Linked DNA regions of Homo sapiens. The protein of the gene in region 3 interacts with the protein of the main gene of each other region in a pairwise test. Each region holds a gene or a part of one and is shown on either strand. Other genes may lie near its edges. The genes, in order: PIAS4, RIDA and SERPINA5.

Region 1 (3,724 bases), on a different chromosome or scaffold from region 3:
CGCCTGTAATCCCAGCTACTTGGGAGGCTGAGGCAGGAGAATTGCTTGAATCCAGCAGGTGGAGGTTGCAGGAAGCCAAAATCGCGCCACTGCACTCCAGCCTGGAAGCCTGGATAACAAGAGCTACACTCAGTCTCAAAAAAAAAAAACAAAAAAACACCTGACTTAACTTCCTGCTCATGCTGGACACCAGAATAAATTCCTAAGGCGGGCGGTGTAAACCGGGGACCCCCAGCTCCTGGGATTCACCTACTTTCTCCCCCTCCAATTCAGGGTGTGGATTTCAATGTATGCAGCCTTCTGGGACCTCAGCAGGGCAGAGGATCATGGGACACAGAGTCTCTTGGGGATACGTGGAATCCCCTAACCCAGGGAGGTCTCGCCCGGGTTATCCTGCCCTAGGGGACACTGGACAATGTCTGGGGACATCTGTGGTTGTCACAACAGGGGTGTGTTCTTGTCATGGCGTGGGTGGAGGCGAGGAATGCTCCTCCGCTCCCTGCAATGCCCAGGATGGGCCCAGGAGGGCAAGACCGTGTTAAAAGGGCACAGTCAGTCCGCCTCTCTCTAGCAGGCTGCAGGGCACAGGCAGTGGGCACACAGGCCAGCACCTGAGACCCAGGATGGGGTTTTCTGGAAGGAAGCAAACCCGGCCACTGCCTTGCAGCACGGTTCTGGACTGAGCCCGAGCGAGGCCTGCAGTGGACGTGGCTGCCGGCTCTCCCCAGTGAGCCCAGGAGAAAGTGGGTGGGCGGGCGGTGGGGTGCTGGGCTGGGGGAGGTGCCGCACACCTGGAGTTCCGGATCAACTCCACCTGTCTTGGCGTCAATGCGAAGATGCACGGGCTCTCCTGAAGCTTCTCGTTGTTCTGTGGGACTGAAGACAAACACGGGGTCAGGGGCATGTCTGGTCCCTGGCAGGTCCCCCGAGCCCAGTCGCTTTTCCCAGCCTGCGCCTCTTCAGACCAGGAAACAGGAAATGGGAAGTTGGCTGGACAGATATGTGGGGCAGAGGTGGGGGCCGCCCAGGAAGGAGGATGAGGGAGGACTCCCGCCCATCCCCTTCTCGGGGCCGCTCACCATGGCCTGTGTCCTGTTGACGGCCACTCAGATTGCTGGGTGACCTTCGCAGCCTGTGGGATGCAGGCGTCTACTTAGGAAACCGAAAAGTGCCGAGCTGCCTGGCGGGGAGAGCTGGACCCAGCCAGGCCAGCAGGACACTGCCATACCTCCTCTCTCCTGAGCACAAACCGGACCCGGCCCTTGCTCTCCTCCTGCCTGCAGGGTGGCCACGTCACCCGGACAGAGGTGGTGCGGGGGGTACTGACGGGATGAAGGCCATGGTGCTCACAAGCCTGGGCCCTACCCTCTTACTTACAACTGGACTGACAGGCAGAGGCGCAGTCAGAAAACATTGGTTTTTGTTTGTTTTGTTTTGTTTTGTTTTGTTTTGGAGATGGAGTTTTACCCTGTCGCCCAGGCTGGAGTGCAATGGCACGATCTCGGCTGACTGCAACCTCCGTCTCCCGGGTTTAAGCGATTCTCCTGCCTCAACCTCCCGAATAGCCACCAAGCCTGGCTAATTTTTGTATTTTTAGTAGAGATGGGATTTCGCCATGTTGGCCAGGCTGGTTTCGAACTCGTGACCTCAGGTGATCCGCCCATCTCAAACTCTCAAAATGCTGGGATTACAGGCGTGAGCCACTGTGCCCAGCCAGCCCCATTTTTTTTTTTTTTTTTGAGACTTTGTTTCACTCTTGTTGCCCAGGCTGGACTGCAATAGCACAATCTCAGCTCACTGCAACCTCCACCTCCTGGGTTCAAGTGATCCTCCTGCCTCAGCCTCCCAAAACAGCTGGGATTACAGGCATGAGCCACCACGCCCGGCTAATTTTCTATTTTTAGTAGAGGTAGGGTTTCTCCATGTTGGCCAGGCTGCTCTCGAACTCCCGACCTCAGGTGATCTGCCCACCTCGGCCTCCCAATGTGCTGGAATTACAGGCATGAGCTACGGCGCCTGGCTGCCGCATCTCTTAAAAAAACAGCAGGGTGTGGTGTCTCAAAAAAAAAAAAAATAGCCAGGCCTGGTTCGGGCGCCTGTAATCCCAGCTACTTGGGAGGCTGAGGCAGGAGAATTGTCTGAAGCTGAGAGGCAAAGGTTGCAGTGAGTGGAGATCACACCACTGCCTGGGCGACAGAGTGAGACTGTTTCCAAAAAAACCCAAAAAAACAAAAACAAAAACAAACGGCCAGGCGCGGTGGCTCACGCCTGTAATCCCAGCATTTTGGGAGGCCGAGGGGGGTGGATCACGAGGTCAGGAGATCGAGACCATCCTGGCTAACACGGTGAAACCCCATCTCTACTAAAAATACAAAAAATTAGCTGGGTGTAGTGGCAGGCGCCTGCAGTCCCAGCTACTAGGGAGGCTGAGGCAGGAGAATGGCGCGAACCTGGGAGGCGGAGCTTGCAGGGAGGCGAAGCTTGCAGTGAGCCAAGATCGTGCCACTGCACTCCAGCCTGGGCTACAGAGCGAGACTCTGTCTCAAAAAAAACCACCAAAAACAACAACAACAACAAAAAAAACAAAACTCTAGCTGAACAACAAAAAGACAGTGAGAACACAAACTACCAATATCAGAAATGAAAGAACAATAGTACAGACCCTACAGCTTTTCGGTTCAATAGGGGAATAAAAGGTGAAACTTTATGCCAATGAATCTGACAACTTAGTGACATGGACAAATCCTCCCAAAGATGCAAATTACCAAAACGGGTACCAAAAGATACAGGAAGTTTGAAAAGCTCTTTACCTGTTAAGGAAGTTGGATCCATAATTAAAACCTTTTCTGAAAACTGCAGGTCCAGATTGGGCATGGTGGCTCATGCCTGTAATCCCAGCACTTTGGGGGCTGAGGTGGGTGGATTGCTTGAGCCCAGGAGTTTGAGGCCAGCCTGGGCAACAAAGTGAGACCTTGTCTCTACAAAAAATTTTTAAATTAGCCAGGTGTGGAGGTGCACACCACCTGTAGTCCCAGCTACTTTGGAGGCTGAGGCAGGAGGATTGCTTGAACCCAGGAAGTGGAGGCTGCAGTGAGCCATGATCGTACCACTGCACTCCAGCCTGGGCAACAGAATCAGACCCCATCTCAAAAAAAAAAAAAAAAAAAAAGAAAAAGAAAATGCAGGTCCATATCGGTGAATTCTATAAAACATTTTGGAAAGAAACCACATAAACCGTACATAAACTCTTTCAAAAAACAGAGAAGGAAAGCATACTTCTTATTTTACAAGGCCAGCATAACTCTGATACCAAAACCTCACAACTCAGCATCAAGGAAGGAAAATTCCCGATGAATACCCCTCATGAACACAGATGTAAAATCCTCCACAAAATATCAGCCAGTATTTCAGGCCCCTGCGATTTGTGTAGAAATCCAAGACCGGTTTAAATCCTCTCTACACACCCAGGCCAGGTGCGGTGGCTCATGCCTGGAATCCCAGCACTGTGGAGGCGAGGCAGGTGGATCACTTGAGGTCAGGAGTTCAAGACCAGCCTGGACAATATGGTAACCCCATCTCTACTAAAAATACAAAAATTAGCCAGGCATGGTGACACACGCCTCTAATCCCAGCTACTCGGGAGGCTGAGGAGAATCGCTTAAACCCAGAAGGCGGAGGTTGCAGTGAGCCGAGATTGTGTAACTGCACTCCAGCCTGGGTGACA
Region 2 (3,724 bases), on a different chromosome or scaffold from region 3:
TATGTTACATATTTTTAAACACACAAGCACACATGGTAGCATACTGTGCATGTTGTTCTGCATCTTGGTTTTATTACCATGGAACAATTTACCTCGGAGATCTTTCCACATTACTTTAGTTGTATTGATCTAGCATAATTTATTCAACCAGTTCTTTATGAGTGGATATTTAGGTTTTTAAAAATCTTTCAGCTAGGCCGGGTGTGGAGGCTCATGCCTGTAATCTCAGCACTTTGGGAGGCTGAGGTGGGTGGATCATGAGGTCAGGAGATCGAGACCATCCTGGCTAGCACGGTAAAACCCCGTCTCTACTAAAAATACAAAAAATAAGCCAGGTGTGGTGGCGTGTGCCTGTAGTCCCAGTTACTTGGGAGGCTGAGGCAAGAGAATTGCTTGAACCTGGAAGACAGAGGTTGCAGTGAGCTGAGATCACGACACTGCACTCCAGCCTGGGCGACAGAGCAAGGCTGTCTCAAGAAACAAAACAAAACAAAACAAACTTTCAGCATTATATGACTCAGTAAATGCAGTAAATTATAGTTTATTGTTTTATTTTATTTTATTTTTTGAGACAGTGTCTTGCTCTGTGTCCCAGGCAGGAGTGCAGTGGCACGATCTTGGCTTCCTGCAACTTCCACCTCCCAGGTTTAAGCGATTCTTCTGCATCAGCCTCCTGAGTAACTGGGACTACAGGCATGTGCCACCTGACTGGGTTACTTTTTTTTTCTATTTTTTTTTTGAGACAGGGTTCTTGCTCTGTTGCCCAGGCTAGAGTGGAGTGGCACAATCTCAGCTCACTGCAACCTCCGCCTTCCGGGTTCAAACGATTCTCATGCCTTAGCCTCCCGAGTAGCTGGGACTACAGGCACATGCCACCACACCTGGCTAATTTTTGTATTTTCAGTAGAGACGGGGTTTCACCATGTTGGCCAGGCTGGTCTTGAACTCCTGACCTCAGGTGATCTGCCCGCCTCGGCCTCCCAAAGTGCTGGGATTACAGGTGTGAGCCATTGTGCCTGGCCTCCCCCAACTAATTTTTGTATTTTTAGTAGAGATGGGGTTTCACCATGTTGTCTAGGCTAGTCTTGAACTCCTGACCTCAAGTGATCTGCCAGCCTCGGCCTCCCAAAGTGCTAGGATTACAGGTGTGAGCCACATCGTGCCTGGCCTAAATTATGGTTTAATTATATTTATTGGATTAAAATTATATTCCCCATTCTTATTTTTAAAAATGTTGACTTTTTACTTCTGTGGTGGTAATTTTTTTTTTTTTTTGAAGAGGGGCAGGTCAGTGGCCCTGAGAAGAAAATTTCCCAATCCATGTGGAAGTGGCAACATGTCATCTGACGTCAATAATTCAGGTTTAAGGTCACCTTAGTGTTAAGGAGGTGGAATCTCTCTTTTGGTTGTTAGATGATTCATGATCCATCAAATTTCCAACTCTTAGATCAAAAACTATGTTAAATCAAGCAGTAAGTAGTTTAAAAAACATTTATCTGTTAATCTCTATAAAACAAATCAGGCAAGTGGATTCTTAATGCTCTTCAACATTAAAAAGGTAGTAGAAAAGGGAACCTTAAATGTGGAAAATAACTTACTTGTTTAGCTTCTTCTGCTACCCCTCCTGACACAAGCTGTCCACTTGAAGGGTCCATGCCTATCTGTCCTGAAATGTAAATGGTCCTGTCGACTAATACAGCTTGACTGCAATAAACAGAAAGCTAGTGTATTTATGTAAGTATAAAACATAAAATTCAATGCTAGAAGACTTTTTTGATAGGACAGAGAAGTATAAATTGTAAAAAAAAAAAAACAGATACATTGGACTTCATGAAAATTGAAAACTTTTGTTTATCAAAGATATCTTTAAGAAAATGAAAAGGGGCTGGGTGCTGTAATCCTAGTGCTTTGGGAGGGTGAAGCAGGAGGATCGCTTGGGACCAGGAGTTTGAGATCAGCCTGGGCAACCACTCAGTCTCTACAAAAAACAATAAAAAACAGCCAAGTATGGTGACGCACACCCGTAGTCCCAGCTACTCAGGAGGCTAGGGTGATTGAATTGCTTGAGCCCAGGAGTTGAAGGCTGAAGTGAGCCATGAGTATACCACTGCGCTCCAGCCTCAGTGGCACTGAGTAACAGAGAAAGACCCAAAATAAAAAAAGGGGTCGGGGGAAGAAAAGGCAAGTCATAGATTGGGAGAAAAATATTTGCAAAACATATACCTAATAAAGTACCTATATCCAGAATATAAGAAGAACTCTTAAAAGTCAATAATGTGAAGACAAACCCAATAAAATATGAGCAAATGATACTTCACAAAAGAAAATATACAAAGAGTTAGAGTACATGAAATTTGCTCAACATTAGTAGTCATTAGAGAAATGCAAAGCAAAACCACACACTAAGACATCACTGATAAAGTAAGCATTGGCAATGATGGGGAGCAACCCTCATACATTGTCGGTAGTAATGCAAAATGGTACAGCCACTTTAGAAAATAGTTTGGCAGTTTCTTTAAAAATTTAAACATATATTTAACATACAACCCAGCAAACTCTTCTTTTAGAGACAGGATCTTGCTCTGTCACCCAGGCTGAAGTGCAGTGGTAGGATGTTGGCTCACTGAAGCCTTGACCTCCCAGGCCCAAGTGATCCTCCCATCTCAGCCTCCTAAGTAGCTGAGACTAAAGGTGTGCACCACCATGCCTGGCTAATTTTTTATTTTATTATTTACTTATTTTTATTTTTTGTAGAGATGAGGTCTTGCTATGTTGCCTAGGCTGGTCTCAAACTCCTGGACTCAAGTGATCCTCCTGCCTTGGCCTCCCAAAGTGCTGGGATTACAGGCTTGAGCCTCAACTCAGCAATTTCTTTCCTAGGCAACTATCCAAGAGAAATGAAAACATATGTCCAAAGAGTTTACGTGAATGTTCAGAATAGCATTATTTATAGCAAAAAAGCAAGACACACACACATGCACCCACTGATAGATCCAACAAAGGACTATATATTGTCTTATTTCACTTAAATGAAACCTTAGAAAAGAAAATAGCAGCAGCAGATTATTAATTGTTGTCTAGGGCCAGGGGTGATCATAAATGGGTACAAGGGAATTTTTTGGGAGTGATAGAAATATTCTAAAATTTGACTATTATAGTGGATGCATGATTCTATACATTTACTAAAACTCATGGAACACTACACTTAATTAAAATGGGTGACTTGTTTTTTTGAGATGGAGTCTCACTCTGTCACCCAGGCTGGAGTGCAGTGGCACAATCTTGGCTCACTGCAACCTCCGCCTCCCGGGTTCAAACAATTCTGCCTCAGCCTCCCAAGTAGCTGGGATTACAGGTGTGAGCCACCACGCCCAGCTAATTTTTGCATTTTTAGTAGAGATGGGGTTTTGCCATGTTGGCCAGGCTGGTCTTGAACTCCTGACCTCAGGTGATCCGCCTGCCTCCGCTTCCCAAAGTGCTGGGATTACAGTCGTGGGCCACCACACCCAGCCATTAAAATGGGTAACTTTTATAAGTAACTTATACCTCAATATAGCTGTAAAGCAAAAAAATGCAATTTCAAGAGCACTTTTAAAAACATAAGTAGTCATCTTCAGACAAGATTAGTCACTGCTTATTGGAGGATCAATTAAGGATATACTTTTGAGGGTCCACTTCTGATATGGCTTGGCTGTGTCCTTGCCCAAACCTCATCTGGAATTGT
Region 3 (3,500 bases):
AGCAAGTCCACAATCTTGCCCTTCGTTTGCTTTGCCACATAATCATTGATCTGCTTCATGGCCCCTGCAGAGTCCCTAAAGTTGGTAGGGAAAGTGTCTGCCAGGTACAGCGTCTTCATGGCACTTACGAAGGTGTCCTGCAGGTCTACCACCAGGTCGGTGAAAAGGGCATTGCCGAGGCTCAGCTGGAAGCCATCTCTGGGCTGGTTGAGTTCCTGAAGGAGCTGCTGAAAGCCTCTGTGCAGCTCCTTCTCTGAGCTTTTCTGGAGGTTGAGGCCCAGGCCCTCCAGGATCTGCATCTTTGTGCTGGACCCAGCCCCCAGGGAGAGCATGGCCAGGCTCATGGAGATGCTCACAGGGGAGAAGAAGATGCTCTGGCTGGGGGCAGCGGAAGCCAAGGCCCTGTAGAGGTCAAAGGTAAAGTCCCTTCTGCTGCTGGGGGCCACCGTGGCACCTACATGGAGGTCCTCGACTCTCTTCTTCATCTCCCGGGGGTGGTGGCGGTGAAGGGAGGCCCCCTGAGGGCTGAGAAGCACCAGGCACAAGAGGAGGAAGAGCTGCATGGTGGCTGTTCTTTGTTCTGAAAGGGAAAGAAGGTGTCCTCAGAGAGGGGTGGAGCTGGTCCAGGTGCTGACTTTCCAGAGATGTCCCCACCCAACACTCAATGGGTATGTTTGGTCCATTCAGCTTCAAAGAGAAGGGATGGCACCCGCAAGACTGGGCATGAGGGTTTACACAGGGTGGCAGTGGCTCGAGGACAAGATTTAGGGATGACGGGGAGAGGAAGGAGGGAGAGGAGGTGCAGACCCAAGGCAGGGGTCTGGCTGCCAGGGCAGGAATCCTGTCTACCCATCCACATCAAGGGACACATTTTGGAGGATGGGATATGGAGGGAGAGGGTTCCCTCTGCTCTGCTCTGTCTCATCAGCATCTCGAGGTTACCAGGGAACTAAGCTGCTTCCATGTGAGCTTCTGGCCTTCACTCTGGTGTCCTGGTTTGGCACATGGCAGGGCGCTGTGGTCCTTCTATGAACTCAGACCAGCTACATGCCTGGGACCATCAGCACTGCTGGCCTTGCCCTGTTCATTCAGCAAACGCTGAGTGAGTGTCCACCCTGGGGTAGGCAGAATACCAGTATGCAAACTGTCCCCTTCTCCTTCCCCCAGGGGCTGCTCCATGCCACCCTTGTCCCACAGAGAGACATCTTCCCCTCCTAAAGGAATTCTGCCTGAACCTCTTCATGTGGACATCCCCACCGTCCTCCTGTTCTGGCTGAATTGTGCCCCCAAAATGCATATGCTGAAGTCCTTACCTTCAATACCCCAGAATGTGACTATATCTGGAGATAGGGCTTTTAAAGAGGGGACTGAGTTAGAATGAGGTCACTAGAGTGGGCCCCAACCCAATATGACTACGTCCTTACACAAAAATTAAAAAGAGGAGATCAGGATAGAGACATGCACAGAGGGAAGACCAGGTGAAGACAGGGAGAAGGCAGCCACCTGTGAGCCAAGGAGAGGGGCCTTGGAAGGAACAAATCCTGCTGGTGCCTTAATCTCAGACTTCCAGCTTCCAGAGTTGTAAAGAAAGAAATTTCTGTTGTTGAAGCCCCCTAGCCCCTGGGACTTTGTGACAGCAGCCCATGCAGGCAAAGACATCTTTTCATCTTCCAGATGAGGAGGCACTCATCTTTGTCTCTAGCTCTTCTCAGGGAGGCCTTTGTGGGGTCTCCCATCACTCCTGACGTGGCCTTGGCCTTCAGTCCTCCTCTTCCTCCCTCCACTTCACCCAAGAGCCGTTCCTGTGCCCATGCCTCCCCATCTGGCTACGGGTAGAAGTCTTGCCTCCTCCCTCTGCAGTAGGAAACAGCTCAGGCTCTGAAGCCACTGCCTGGGTTCAAATCTCAGCCCTGCTGTGTCCTTGTAGTGTGATTTTGGGCAAGTCAGTTACACCTTGAGCCACTGCTCCATAACTGTAAGATAGTGATAATAACAGCACCTACACCATGGGGTGCTTGGGGGCACGTGCTATGGAAGTGTGAGCAGTAGGCATGGCAGTTTCTGGCAAAAGCCCCATCTGAGGCCTCCATATTCTCAACTGTACCATAGGGTACATGCTTTACACACACACACACACACACACACACACACACACACACACGTGTGAGCCTGACAGCACCCAGGCTGGCTAATTACCAGGTGCAGAGGGCCTGCCTGGCTTCTGATGTGAGCTTTGCCCTGTGTGTCGCCTTGGAGGGAATCCCTTTCTGCTGGGCTCTCTCCATGGGCACAATGTCATCAGTGACCCCAGATCCCCACCAGGCAGGGGCAGCCTGTCACAGCATCCCGTGACCCAATTAAAACCAAACTCCAAAGGGCCCCAAACAGGTGGGTGGGAAATCCCTTGCAGAGTGGCCGTGGGGCTCAGCAGTGGAGAGAGAATGGTCTCAGGAATTGGGCAGGCTTGGACTGCAGGCCTGTCTTTAAGTGAAGTTGAATAGCTCCAGCAGGTCACCCTTGCCAGCCCAGCCTCCAAATTGTGTCCTGAGCTCCTTCCGAGAAGGAGCCTCATGTAGAAGTTTCTGCCTGCAGAATCGAACCTGGCACCAAACCCAGCAGCCACAGCAGTTGGGCGCATTGCCCGCACCCTCTTTCAGGCACTGTGCCAACTCCTTCAGCCCTGCACCACCCAAAAAGGTACATCTTGCTGCTAGCTCTATTTTACAGATGGGTAATCCGAGGTTCAGAGAGATGGAGTCGCTTGCTAACACTGGCAAAGCTTGGACTCAGACTCGGTTATCACTCTGACTCTGCAGAGTCCTGCCTCCTCTGCAGAGTCCTGCCTCCTCTTTTCCTGGCTGCATCTTCCTGATTTTGAAATCCCTGACTTAGTAGCCACCAACAATAGCCCTAATCTGCAGATAATGAGTGAGCAGAGTCTGGGCTTCCCCCCACTGACACTCCCTACCTGTTCCCACCATGGCACTTGCCTGGAGAGCTTTGAAGGACATAGGTGGGTGCTTTAATCTCCGGCTTCTCTAAATGAGTCTATTTTACAGCACAATATGGTCCCTCCTGCCAAGGGTTGGAACCAGCCATGTATGGAGATGCTTCTAAAGAAACAATGTGGCTCAACCCCCCACAGGGTCACACTGAGCTGATAATTTCGAGAACAGCTTCAGAAGCAGGGGAGTTTCCTTATTGGATACAGCCCAGGGGCAGCTGACCAGAGAGTCTCAGTGAGGCCCTGGCCTCCATTCTCCCATCTATTCAGCTACTAGGTCACCCTGGGCAAGCCTCACCCCCTCTGGGCCTCAGTTTCTTCATCTGCAGTCTGCCATGTGTTGTGGACACCCCCTCAAGACCCCGCCCCCTGCCAAGCACTAGAGATCCGATGGGGAGGAGCTGCTTCTCCGGGTGTGCACTGAGTCTCCCCCAGGATCTGTTTGGAGAGGGCCCCAGGTTCACTTAGGCTCTCCTGGGCTACATGTTTGAGACCC

What was found.
Region 1: the proteins of SERPINA5 (region 3) and PIAS4 interact in a two-hybrid assay, tested with the Homo sapiens proteins (one large-scale study listed by BioGRID and IntAct).
Region 2: the proteins of SERPINA5 (region 3) and RIDA interact in a two-hybrid assay, tested with the Homo sapiens proteins (one large-scale study listed by BioGRID and IntAct).

Annotation. Positions count from the first base shown.
Region 1 is NC_000019.10:4,021,188-4,024,911, reverse strand, and holds part of PIAS4 (E3 SUMO-protein ligase PIAS4), read right to left. Parts: intron 877-3,724; coding exon 792-876; intron 1-791.
Region 2 is NC_000008.11:98,107,048-98,110,771, forward strand, and holds part of RIDA (2-iminobutanoate/2-iminopropanoate deaminase), read right to left. Parts: intron 1,705-3,724; coding exon 1,599-1,704; intron 1-1,598. UniProt on the Homo sapiens protein: Catalyzes the hydrolytic deamination of enamine/imine intermediates that form during the course of normal metabolism. May facilitate the release of ammonia from these potentially toxic reactive metabolites, reducing their impact on cellular components.
Region 3 is NC_000014.9:94,584,426-94,587,925, reverse strand, and holds part of SERPINA5 (plasma serine protease inhibitor preproprotein), read right to left. Parts: intron 581-3,500; 5' UTR 564-580; coding exon 1-563. UniProt on the Homo sapiens protein: Heparin-dependent serine protease inhibitor acting in body fluids and secretions. Inactivates serine proteases by binding irreversibly to their serine activation site. Involved in the regulation of intravascular and extravascular proteolytic activities.